Homo sapiens: one gene and its partners. The protein of the gene in region 1 purifies or fractionates together with the protein of each later gene. This does not show direct contact. Each region holds a gene or a part of one and is shown in the gene's direction. Other genes may lie near its edges.

Evidence for each region. The genes of interacting proteins can lie anywhere in the genome.
Region 2: the proteins of USH1C (region 1) and WDR20 purify together in Homo sapiens (affinity purification with mass spectrometry; one large-scale study listed by BioGRID and IntAct). This does not show direct contact.
Region 3: the proteins of USH1C (region 1) and LTV1 purify together in Homo sapiens (affinity purification with mass spectrometry; one large-scale study listed by BioGRID and IntAct). This does not show direct contact.

What each region holds. Positions count from the first base shown.
Region 1 is NC_000011.10:17,506,417-17,509,916, reverse strand, and holds part of USH1C (harmonin), read left to right. Parts: intron 1-78; coding exon 79-561; intron 562-687; coding exon of another isoform or gene 688-795; exon of another isoform or gene 796-3,500. UniProt on the Homo sapiens protein: Anchoring/scaffolding protein that is a part of the functional network formed by USH1C, USH1G, CDH23 and MYO7A that mediates mechanotransduction in cochlear hair cells. Required for normal development and maintenance of cochlear hair cell bundles.
Region 2 is NC_000014.9:102,146,397-102,149,896, forward strand, and holds part of WDR20 (WD repeat-containing protein 20), read left to right. Parts: intron 1-3,500. UniProt on the Homo sapiens protein: Regulator of deubiquitinating complexes. Activates deubiquitinating activity of complexes containing USP12. Anchors at the base of the ubiquitin-contacting loop of USP12 and remotely modulates the catalytic center of the enzyme.
Region 3 is NC_000006.12:143,856,838-143,860,337, forward strand, and holds part of LTV1 (protein LTV1 homolog), read left to right. Parts: intron 1-465; coding exon 466-607; exon of another isoform or gene 608-744; coding exon of another isoform or gene 745-746; intron 747-914; coding exon 915-1,170; intron 1,171-3,500. UniProt on the Homo sapiens protein: Essential for ribosome biogenesis.

The sequences.
Region 1 (3,500 bases):
GAGCATAGTGCTCGCTGTATTGTGAAGTGGAGCTCTAAGCAGAGTGACAATTACAGAACTTCCTTGCAACACCCCCAGATGACCACAGGGCCCCCGCCTCCCCCGCCTTCTGTGTCTCCCCTGGCCCCACCCTTGAGACGCTTCGCAGGCGGACTGCACCTGCACACCACTGACCTGGACGACATCCCTTTGGACATGTTCTACTATCCCCCCAAGACTCCCTCTGCCTTGCCTGTGATGCCCCACCCTCCACCCTCCAACCCACCCCACAAGGTCCCGGCGCCCCCTGTCCTTCCCTTATCTGGCCATGTGAGCGCCTCATCCTCTCCATGGGTGCAGCGCACTCCACCCCCCATTCCCATCCCTCCCCCGCCATCCGTTCCCACCCAAGACCTCACTCCCACCCGCCCACTGCCCTCGGCGCTGGAAGAAGCACTGAGCAACCATCCCTTCCGCACTGGGGACACAGGCAATCCAGTGGAGGACTGGGAGGCAAAGAACCACAGTGGGAAGCCCACTAACTCCCCTGTCCCTGAACAGAGCTTCCCACCCACCCCAAAGGTAATGTCCCTGTTCTGCATGCTATGTTTGGAAGTAGGAAGAGTGGGGAGAACTGCTGTTTCCCATGTCCTCCACTGCTCCTGAGAGTGGAGACAGAAAGAAACATCATCTCACCCCATTTTCCAGGAATGCCCCCTCCGTGTGCATGTGTGGACATCCTGCATGTATATGGTGGTTCTCACTGATTTTGAAGTGCTGTATTGTATGGTGAATGGCCTGGGACCTTTGGGGTAAGCAACGGTGTGTCCATTTGATATTCATTGCTCTCTCTTAGCTCTTCTTTGCTAGTGTAGGCTGGTAACTTTCAATGTAGGACTTGGAAGTCTATGTTAATGAATAGCCAGCACTCTGTCACATCCAGTCACTTCCTGATATTATCCCAGAAAGCCTTGAATATGGGAAATGGCTCCTGATTTAACGGGAAAAAAAGGGAGGGGAGGAGGAAGCAGGGGCGTATTTGGCTCTGTAAATGAAGTGATAACACTGTACCATCAAATGCAGTATTAGGACATTCCAGTGCCATTTTCTACAGTACTGGCCAACTGCACTGGCTTGAAGTGTAATACCCAGAAATTTCTGGCCAATTTCCAGCTATAGAAAAAATGAAGATGAGAGAGTTCCTAGAAATAATTTACTATTAAAAGAATAGGAATGTTTTTCTTGGATGTTAGGAAGATGAACAGTGTCTTTCTGAAAAAGACATATTTCTTATTAATTATTCGTAATCCAAAGACTATTTTGAAACATGCAATCTCTGAGGAAGACAGGGAGCTTGGATCCCATGAAGGGAAAAACAAAATATTATTCCACTCCCGTAGCCATGAGGCCAGGCTTGAGTCAGTGCAAAGGCATCTCATGTCAGCTGAGGGTAGCAGGGGTTGCTGAGGGAGGGCATAGTCAATAGCACCTGACCAGTGGTTTTTATTAACCTTCCCTGCATGGATTTGAGTTCCTGCGTGGAGAGCAGGACAAGCATCTCAGAGCACTCAGGAGAGCTTACAAGGAAGGTGGGAGTGAAGAAAGTGCCAGATGCCAGCAAGGCTGAAGCTTCCAGCGGGAGACTCTCAGAGGGACCCTTTCTGGACCTCTGGTTGGGGTCGTGAGCCCTGCAGCTTTGACAGGAAGAAATCTGCCTGTTCTCGGGACATCTTTCCCCAGAGCCCAGCCAGGAGCTGGTTTCTAGAGCTGAGTTAGCCTTGCACAACATTTTTCTCTGTAAGTGGCCTCCATCAAGATGAGCAGTAGCTTTTCCTCAACAAATTTGATTCCACTTTGATTGAGTACCTGCCTGGGGCCTCTCTCTGTGAAGGGGAGAGGGGAGCAGTGCTGAAGAGGATGCAGAGGAGATTGACATGCCTGTGCTTTCCAGGACTTTGCCATCTGAAGGATGAGCTGCTGCCCAGGCAGGCTTCTGCTATAAAATATGCATAAGCCATGCGCTATGGGAGGGATTCATTCTAACTGAAGATTGAAGACACCTCTGTAGAGTAGAGGGCTTACGAGCTGAGCCTTGAGGGATGGCAACACATGGAGGATGGGAGCAAGGGCATTGCAAGTGCAGGGAACATAAAGATGGCAAGTTGGAGTAGCAGGGAGTTGGCCTGCCTGGGTTTGAATCCTGGCTGTGCCACTTACTAGCTAGGTAACTGAACACATGCTACTTCATCTATCTGAGCCTGGGCATCCCTGTCCAAAAATAGGAATGCTAATGGCAGCTACCTATTCGAATCAAATAAGTTAATACATGGACACATTCTAAGTTAAGAATGGCAAGAGTGGCAGGCACATCGTGGATGTTCAGTAGACATTAACTATGGTTATTGATAGTCCAGAGTAAAAGAAAATTTGGGTGAAGCTGCAAACCTGGGATCTTAGCAATCTCAGTGTCAGCAAAACTTTGAGTCAGGATCAAGATTCAAGACAGAGTCCAGACTTCTCAGATTCTTCAAGGCATCACCAAGTTCCCACTGTTAGTTCCTGATCAGAGCCCAGGGAAGGTTAAAAGCCCCCCAACACAAGGAGCCTCTGAAGAACTGGACTATAAATGTCACAAGCGACATCAAAGCCAGGGTTGTCCCAGCCTCAAAAGCCAGGGGGCTGTTGCTTGGTTGGCTTCATTTGGCCCACCTCTCACCCTTGTACCACCCACCCTCCTCCTCCCTGCATGCCCCTGGCAAGCTGTCATCAGTGCTGCAGCAGGAAGTGTGAGTGACCACACGCCCACACAGTCAGCCCAGCCACCAGCAGGCCCCAAGTCATGGAAACAAACACCTGTGTTGGCTTGACACTTGTGCCTGCCACACCAGCACCGGCCATAGGGGGGTTTTCAGGGCCAGATCTATCCACAGGCACTGTCCCATGTTCTCACCATACTATTTAGTCATTCATTTATTCATTCAACACATGCTTATTGAGCACCTACTATATGCCAAGGCACTATGCAGGGCACTGGGAATCCCTGCTGGATAGACAGCTGCAGTCTCCCTTCTCAAGACAGTCTGGTGGGGAACAAAGAAAAGTAGGCACCCGCCACACCATCAGCGTGGAGACGGAGGAAGCACAGGTGCTATAATAAGGAAGAGGGCTGGAGTAGAGGAAAAGCTCAAGGGAGGCTTCCAGAAGGCAGTGACGCCCAACTTAAGACCTAGGAGGCAAAGCGGAAGAAGGAAGAGCACGTGCAAAGGCCTCAAGGCAAGAAAGCCTGGCATTTTTTGAGGCTAAAGCTAGGCAGTGTGAGGAGCGTGGCGAGGAGTGAGAGATAAGGCTGAAAAGGAAGCTAGAGAAGCTCATGAAAGGCCTTGGGAGTCAAGCCAATGAGCTCAGTAGTCAATGCGGACACTGGGGAGGGTTTGGGGGCAGGGCTGTGAACTGATTTGATACATCTTGCCCAAAAAGATCAAGTGGGTTAGAGCCAAGCAGACAGGTTGCGTCAGCTCCCC
Region 2 (3,500 bases), on another chromosome or scaffold:
TTGTGATCCACCCGTCTCGGCCTCTCAAAGTGCTGGGATTACAGGTGTGAATCACCATGCCCGGCTAGAAGAGCTTTATGTTCATGATGCTGAGATGAAGTTGGGGCCAGAAGAAGAGTCAGTTGATAAAAGCTAAAGTATTTTTAGATCCTGATTAAAGAAGAAGGTAATGGGTTGACTTGAGAGAGAATGAGCGTTCTGTTATGGGAATGCTCATATGGGAAATGTTCTGTCTCTTTGTCAAAAACTGCAGGACCACCTGTTGGTGACATTGGAGGAATTCCTGCTTTGTGTGGGAGGGTGAACTAGATGCCTTTAAAAAAAATTTCCCCCCCACAGACTTGTTTTAGATATTTTACTGCTTCAGAGAGGGTCATGTTCACACCATTCTCCCCTTTTGTAATTTTTCACACCTCCCTGGCTCCCCTTTTATAATTTAGAAAGAGGTTTAGAAGTCTGTAACTTTTTGTATTAGATTTACTTTGAGAAATCTTGTACTTAATTTAGTAGGTCACAGAGGGTTGCTGAATGACTGGAAACTTGTGTTTCTTTTCCATTAAGGGCTATTTGCTGACTTCTGAAATATTGATGATTTATTTGACTTTAGAATTTTGCATACTGAGGGGAAAGCATCTTAATGTATCATTTAAAGCAGGAGATACTTTCATACTATACCTGGGTTCTCTTGGCTTTGAAGAGGAGGGTGGTCATGAGATATTGAAAGATTGCATGGGTGGCTTGTAATCCCAGCACTTTGGGAGGCTGAGGCGGGTGGATCATCTGGGGTTAGGAGTTCAAGACCAGCCTGGCCAACACGGGGAAACCACATCTCTACTAAAAATACAAAAATTAGCCAAGTATGGTGGCGCATGCCTGTAATCCCAGCTACTCAGGAGGCAGGAGAATCACTTGAACCCAGGAGGTGGAGGTTGCAGTGAGCCAAGATCGTGCCAGTGCACTCCAGCCTGGGCAACAAAGCGAGACCTTCCCAAAAAAGGAGGACTTCATGGGTAGATATGAGCAATGGTGAGAAGCACCTGGAATATGTCATGGAAGTCCGTGAGATAGTCATGAATGCCATTCTTTCAGCAAATATTCATGGAGTATGCCTACCAGATATGAGGTACTGTTTTAGATGCTGGGTGTAGTCAGAGTCTCTGCCCTCAAGAAATGTGTCACTTATACGATATTTATTATCATTGACTTAATATAGTGACTTAAGGGTAAAGTGCTTTGATGGCAAACTTGAGCTTGAGCAAGCATCAAAACATGGTGGATTTTGTCACTGAGTGGTTTGGCTGTATGGCTAAAGAACCTTGTTTTATTTTATTTTAGTTTTAGTTTTAGTTTTGGAGACAGAGTCTCACTCTATTCCCCAGGCTGGAGTGCAATGGCATGATCTTGGTTCACTGCAACCTCTGCCTCCCGGGTTCAAGCCATTCGCAGGCCTCAGCCTCCCGAGTAACTGGGATTACAGGCACCTGCCACCACACCCAGCTAATTTTTGTCTTTTTAGTAGAGACGGGGTTTCCCCATGTTGGCCAGGCTGGCCTTGAACTCCTGACCTCAGGTGATCCACCTGCCTGGGCCTCCCAAAGTGCTGGGATTACAGGCGTGGGCTACTACGCCTGGCCAAGAACCTTGTTTTAAAAATAGGAAGATTTTTGTCGTCTGGAATTTAGTATCTCAGAGAATAATTCTGTTTGTTTCTCAGTGAGGTTAGTTTGTGCAGTAATATGAAATGTGATCTTGTTTGGTTATTCAGGAGAAGACCTTAAAAATAGAAGTAACCTTAATTGGTAGACATTTCTAATTGGTAGACTTCAGTTTTAATTTTCAGGACACTTGAAATTGACAGCATCAGTGACAAGTTACCTTGGCTCTTGCCCTTAATCCCAGTATTTTAGGAGACCGAGGCAGGAGGATTGGTTGAGCCCCAGGAGTTTGAGACCAGCCAGGGCAACATAGTGAGAGCTCATCTCTACAAGAAAAAATTAGCCAGGTGTGGTGGTGCACGCCTGTGGCCCCAGCTATTCAGGTGGCTTAGGTGGGAGAATTGCTGGAGCCTGGGAGGTTGAGGCTGCAGTGAGCGGAAATTGTGCCACTGGACTCCAGCCTGGGTGACAGAGCTGAGACTCTGTCTCAAAAAAAAAAAAAAATCATAATCCTCATTCATCAAGCATTTATTGATGACTGGTATATACAAGGCACTGCTGTCTATTGTGGCGGATGTGAAGTGTATTTAACACTCCTGTCTTTAAAGAGTTTGGCTTTGTGTGTGTGTGTGTGTGTGTGTGTGTGTGTGTGTGTGTTTGGAACAGGGTCTCACTGTGTCACCTAGGCTGGAGGGCAGTGGCACAATCATAGCTCACTGCAGCTTCAACCTCCTGGGCTCAAGTGATCCTCCCGCCTCAGCCTCCTGAGTAATTGGGACTACAGGCATGTGCCACTGTGCCTGGATAATTTTTAAAAAATTTTTTGTAGGCCAGGCGCGGTGGCTCACGCTTGTAATCCCTGCACTTTGGGAGGCCGAGGCGGGCGGATCACGAGGTCAGGAGTTTGAGACCGTCCTGGCTAACACAGCGACACCCCCTCTCTACTAAAAATACAAAAAAATTTAGCTGGGTGTGGTGGCGGGTGCCTGTAGTCGCAGCTACTCGGAAGGCTGAGGCAGGAGAATACTTGAACCCGGGAGGTGGCGCTTGCAGTGAGCTGAGATCGTGCCACTGCACTCCAGCCTGGGCGACAGAGTGAGACTCTCTCAAAACAAAACAAACAAACAAAAAATACATACATAAATACATTTTTTTCTTTTGTAGAGACTGGGTCTTGCTGTGTTGCCTAGTCTGACCTTGAACTCCTGGGCTCAAGTGATGCTTTTGCCTTGTGCTCCCAAAGTGCTGGGATTACAGATGTGAGCCATTGTTCCCGGCTGATTTTGTATTTATCATTATAATACAAAGTAGAGGATATGTGCTCTGCATGTGGCATAGCAATGTAAGTATCAAGTGGAATTAAGGAGTAAAGGTGAAGTGGAAAAGTATTTCTCTGCCTAGTAGAAGAATATTGCATTGGGTTTCAAATAGATAATTTGCCCTAAAATGTTGTGTGCAGATCATATTTTTTATAAATTTTTAAATTTGTTGCCTTGTATTTCTAATTTCAGAAATGCTTTATTTTTATTTCTGATTGAGCGTAAGATGTCCACTGCTCTTTTAGCATTTTTCTCAACTTTTCAGCTTCTCTGCCAGTTGGTAATTTGTAAATTGAGAAATATTTTGTGTCATCAATTCTATTTTATTTATTTATTTATTTGAGACGGAGTCTCACTCTGTCGCCCAGGCTGGAGTGCAGTGGCTCGATCTCAGCACACTGCAACCTCTGCCTCCTGGGTTCAAGCAGTTCTCTGCCTCAGACTCCAGAGTGGCTGGGACTGCAGGCACATGCCACCACGCCCGGCTAATTTTTGTATTTTTTAGTAGAGATGGGGTTTCACTGTA
Region 3 (3,500 bases), on another chromosome or scaffold:
AACCAGAGCTCTCCTCTATGAGGTGTCTATTGACCCCTGATGGGAGGTGTCTCCTAGGCAGGAGGCACAGGGGTCAGGGACCCACTTGAGGAGGCAGTCTGTCCCTTAGCAGAGCTTGAGCACTGTGCCGGGAGATCCGCTGCTCTCTTCAGAGCCGGCAGGCAGGAACGTTTGAGTCTGCTGAAGCTGTGCCCACAGCCGCCCCTTCCCCCAGGTGCTCTGTCCCAGGAAGATGGGAGTTTTATTTATAAGGTCCTGACTGGGGCTGAGGCAGCATTTTGTTTCCTTTTTTTGTCTTGGAGTGTTCATTCTTTATTCTTCACTAGACTGAACTTAGTTCTTAATCGTTCTTTTATCCTCAATATATTAATAGACTCTTGCTATCATAGGTCCTTATATTGTGAGTTAAGTGAATGAATTGTTGCTATCTTGGGAATTACTGCTTAATTTTTGTTTTCCTTCTAGGACCTCGACTGGATTTTGATCCTGACATTGTTGCAGCTCTTGATGATGATTTTGACTTTGATGATCCAGATAATCTGCTTGAGGATGACTTTATTCTTCAGGCCAATAAGGCAACAGGAGAGGAAGAGGGAATGGATATACAGTATGTGTGGTTTGTTTCAAAGCAGAGATGATGACCTAAGTGTTACTGCTTCAGTGGGATGGTAACCATAGAACGTTACAGTTGGAAGAGACCTTCAAGAGCATTTAATCTGAGACTTCTGTATTTTAGAGCAGAAAATGTGAGATTCATTGCTTTTCCTACCAAACCAGATTGATCAAACACCCTCACTCTTCCTGCCTAGACAAGAACCCTTCCTGAAATACCTTCCAATTTTACTTGTGTAAAGTGGTTTTGTTCTGTTACTTTTTAAGTTGTTTTGGTAGGTAATTTATGACCTTTACTTTAGGAAATCTGAGAATGAAGATGACAGCGAGTGGGAAGATGTGGATGATGAGAAGGGAGATAGCAATGATGACTATGACTCTGCAGGCCTATTGTCAGATGAAGACTGTATGTCTGTGCCCGGAAAAACTCACAGAGCTATAGCAGATCACTTGTTCTGGAGTGAGGAAACAAAGAGTCGCTTCACGGAGTATTCGATGACTTCCTCAGTCATGAGGAGAAATGAACAGCTGACCCTACATGATGAGAGGTTTGAGAAGGTAAGGTCCCCACATAAGGGATGCTTTAGTACTATCTTATGTTAAATTTTTTTTTTTAATACCTGTCAGCTTTAGCCCAGGTTGAAGTGCTCACCAACCACAAAGTCAATCATAGGAAGTTTACAACTATCCAGCTATAGGTTCGTGTAGCCAGCATAAAGCAGAAGGGTATCAGTGCAGTACAGGAGCACAAAGACTGCAAAGGGAGCATAGAACTGTGCAGAAGAAGAGTAATTGGTTAGGAGGATGTGACTTTTCCAATTTACATCACACGCTTACACCAGGAGGTGGCTCAAATGATGCCTCATTCAACCTGAATGGGTAACCAAAAGTAGCTGTAATAGTTTTATTCTCACTAACTGTGGTAGGACAACTCACTTGAGTTTCTATTTGGCCCTTAAAACCCCCAGAAGTGGCCCTTAAACCCTCACCATCTCTAATGTTGTGCTTCTTTATTATGTATGTCATATATGGATTTGTCTCAGATTAGAATGTGAATCCCCCAAGGGCAGAGAGTTTTTTATATTTTGCTCACGATACATCTGAAAGCCTAAAATGGTGTCTTGGCATGTAGTAGAAGTTTAAAGTGTTCCATAAATGATAAATGAATGAAGGAATAGTTTCCTTCAAGGTGACTCTAAAGATAGAAGCAGTCCACTCAAGGACCTTGACGAAGCCGAGCGGGTTGAGGTTGATCTGGAAACTGGAACATCCTCTGGCCAAGTCAGCTGATCCGCCCGCGAGCTAAGTAGATGTTAGGCGCCTTGCTGTGTGCCTTGTTTTTTTTTGTTATTTTTCTTTTTTTATTTTTTAAAAAGAGAGATTGGGACCCAAAGCTAAAACTTTTGAGTGTTGAAAACAGCGTATCTCTTTATTAAAACAGAGCATAAAAGCACCTTAGTTATTGTCGTTTTCCCTTTACATATTCTATGAGGCCAGTCACCCTAGTTTTGATTCTGGAAAGAACGTGTGTAGGTCAAAAGGAGTTGGCTGATCAAACGTTCTTATTTTCCCCCTTGAATTCTGACATCCTGATTCTGAATTTCTCCAACAGTAATCCATAAGATGCTATATTTCTGAAGTATTGGCCTGATTGAGCACATCAAAATTCCATTTCTTTCCGTTTCTCATCTGGTGTTTTCAGACATAACTAACACTGAGGAATAGAATGGAAGTAGAGTATAAGACACTTTTGAAAGCTTGTATTTTCATATACTCTATTTGGTTCTGTTGTAACAGATTAGCTCCAGGGTTTATAATCCCAACCTATAGACTGTTTATACAGGTTTTTAATCCCACCTATCCTGTTGTTTGTTCTGTAGCACATAACACCTCCTAACATCATCTCTAATGTTGTGCTTTATTATGTATGTTATATATAGATTTGTCTCAGATTAGAATGTGAATTCCCCAAGGGCAGAGAGTTCTTTGTATTTTGCTCACGGATACATCCAAAAGCCTAAAATGGTGTCTTGGCATGTAATAGAAGTTTAAAGTGTTCCATAAATGATAAATGAATGAAGGAATAGTTGCCATCCAGGTGAATCTAAAATAAAGGCTGTTACCTTGCTACCTTCTCACCTAATACTATTTTCCCTCTTCTCTTGAGGGAGAAACAAACTGTTGCTACAAATCTCACTCTTCAGGAGATATATCCCCCCCATTTACTCTTTGTCAAAGCTTAACAGTGTCAACACCATTTGCATAATATAGTAATTATTGTCTAAACAAGAACAAATATATACATTAGTAGGTGAATTTTCAGTTGCACAATCTTTTAGTTTGCATAACTAAGGAATATGAAAATATCTTTAGTCTAGGCGTAGTGTCTCGTGCCTATAATCTCAGAACTGTGGGAGGCCGAAGCAGATGGATCACTTGAGCCTAGGAGTTTGAGACTGTCTTGGGCAGTGCAGACCCTGTTTCTATTTAAAAAAATAAATAAAATGGCCTGGTATGGTGGCATGTGCCTGTGGTCCCAGCTGCTTGAGAGGCTGAGGTGGGAAGATTGCTTGAGCCTGAGAGTTTGAGGCTGCAGTGAACTATGATCACGCCACTGTACTCCAGGCTGGGAGACAGTGAGATACTTAAAAAAAAGAAAAAGTATCTTCAAAAATGTTCTGACGTAATCTGTGCTGCCTAGCATTTTGTTCTCCAAGCTGAGTGGAATAATGCCTTTCATTTACATGTTAAATGGAAGCCTATTTTTAGGCTAAATGTAAGTCTTAAAGTACTGAGCAGAAATATCTTCCACATCCTATTGTTGCATTAAATCCCTACTGATATTTTAATGGTAATTGTGATAGTACCTGAATAACTATTGTGTAAGA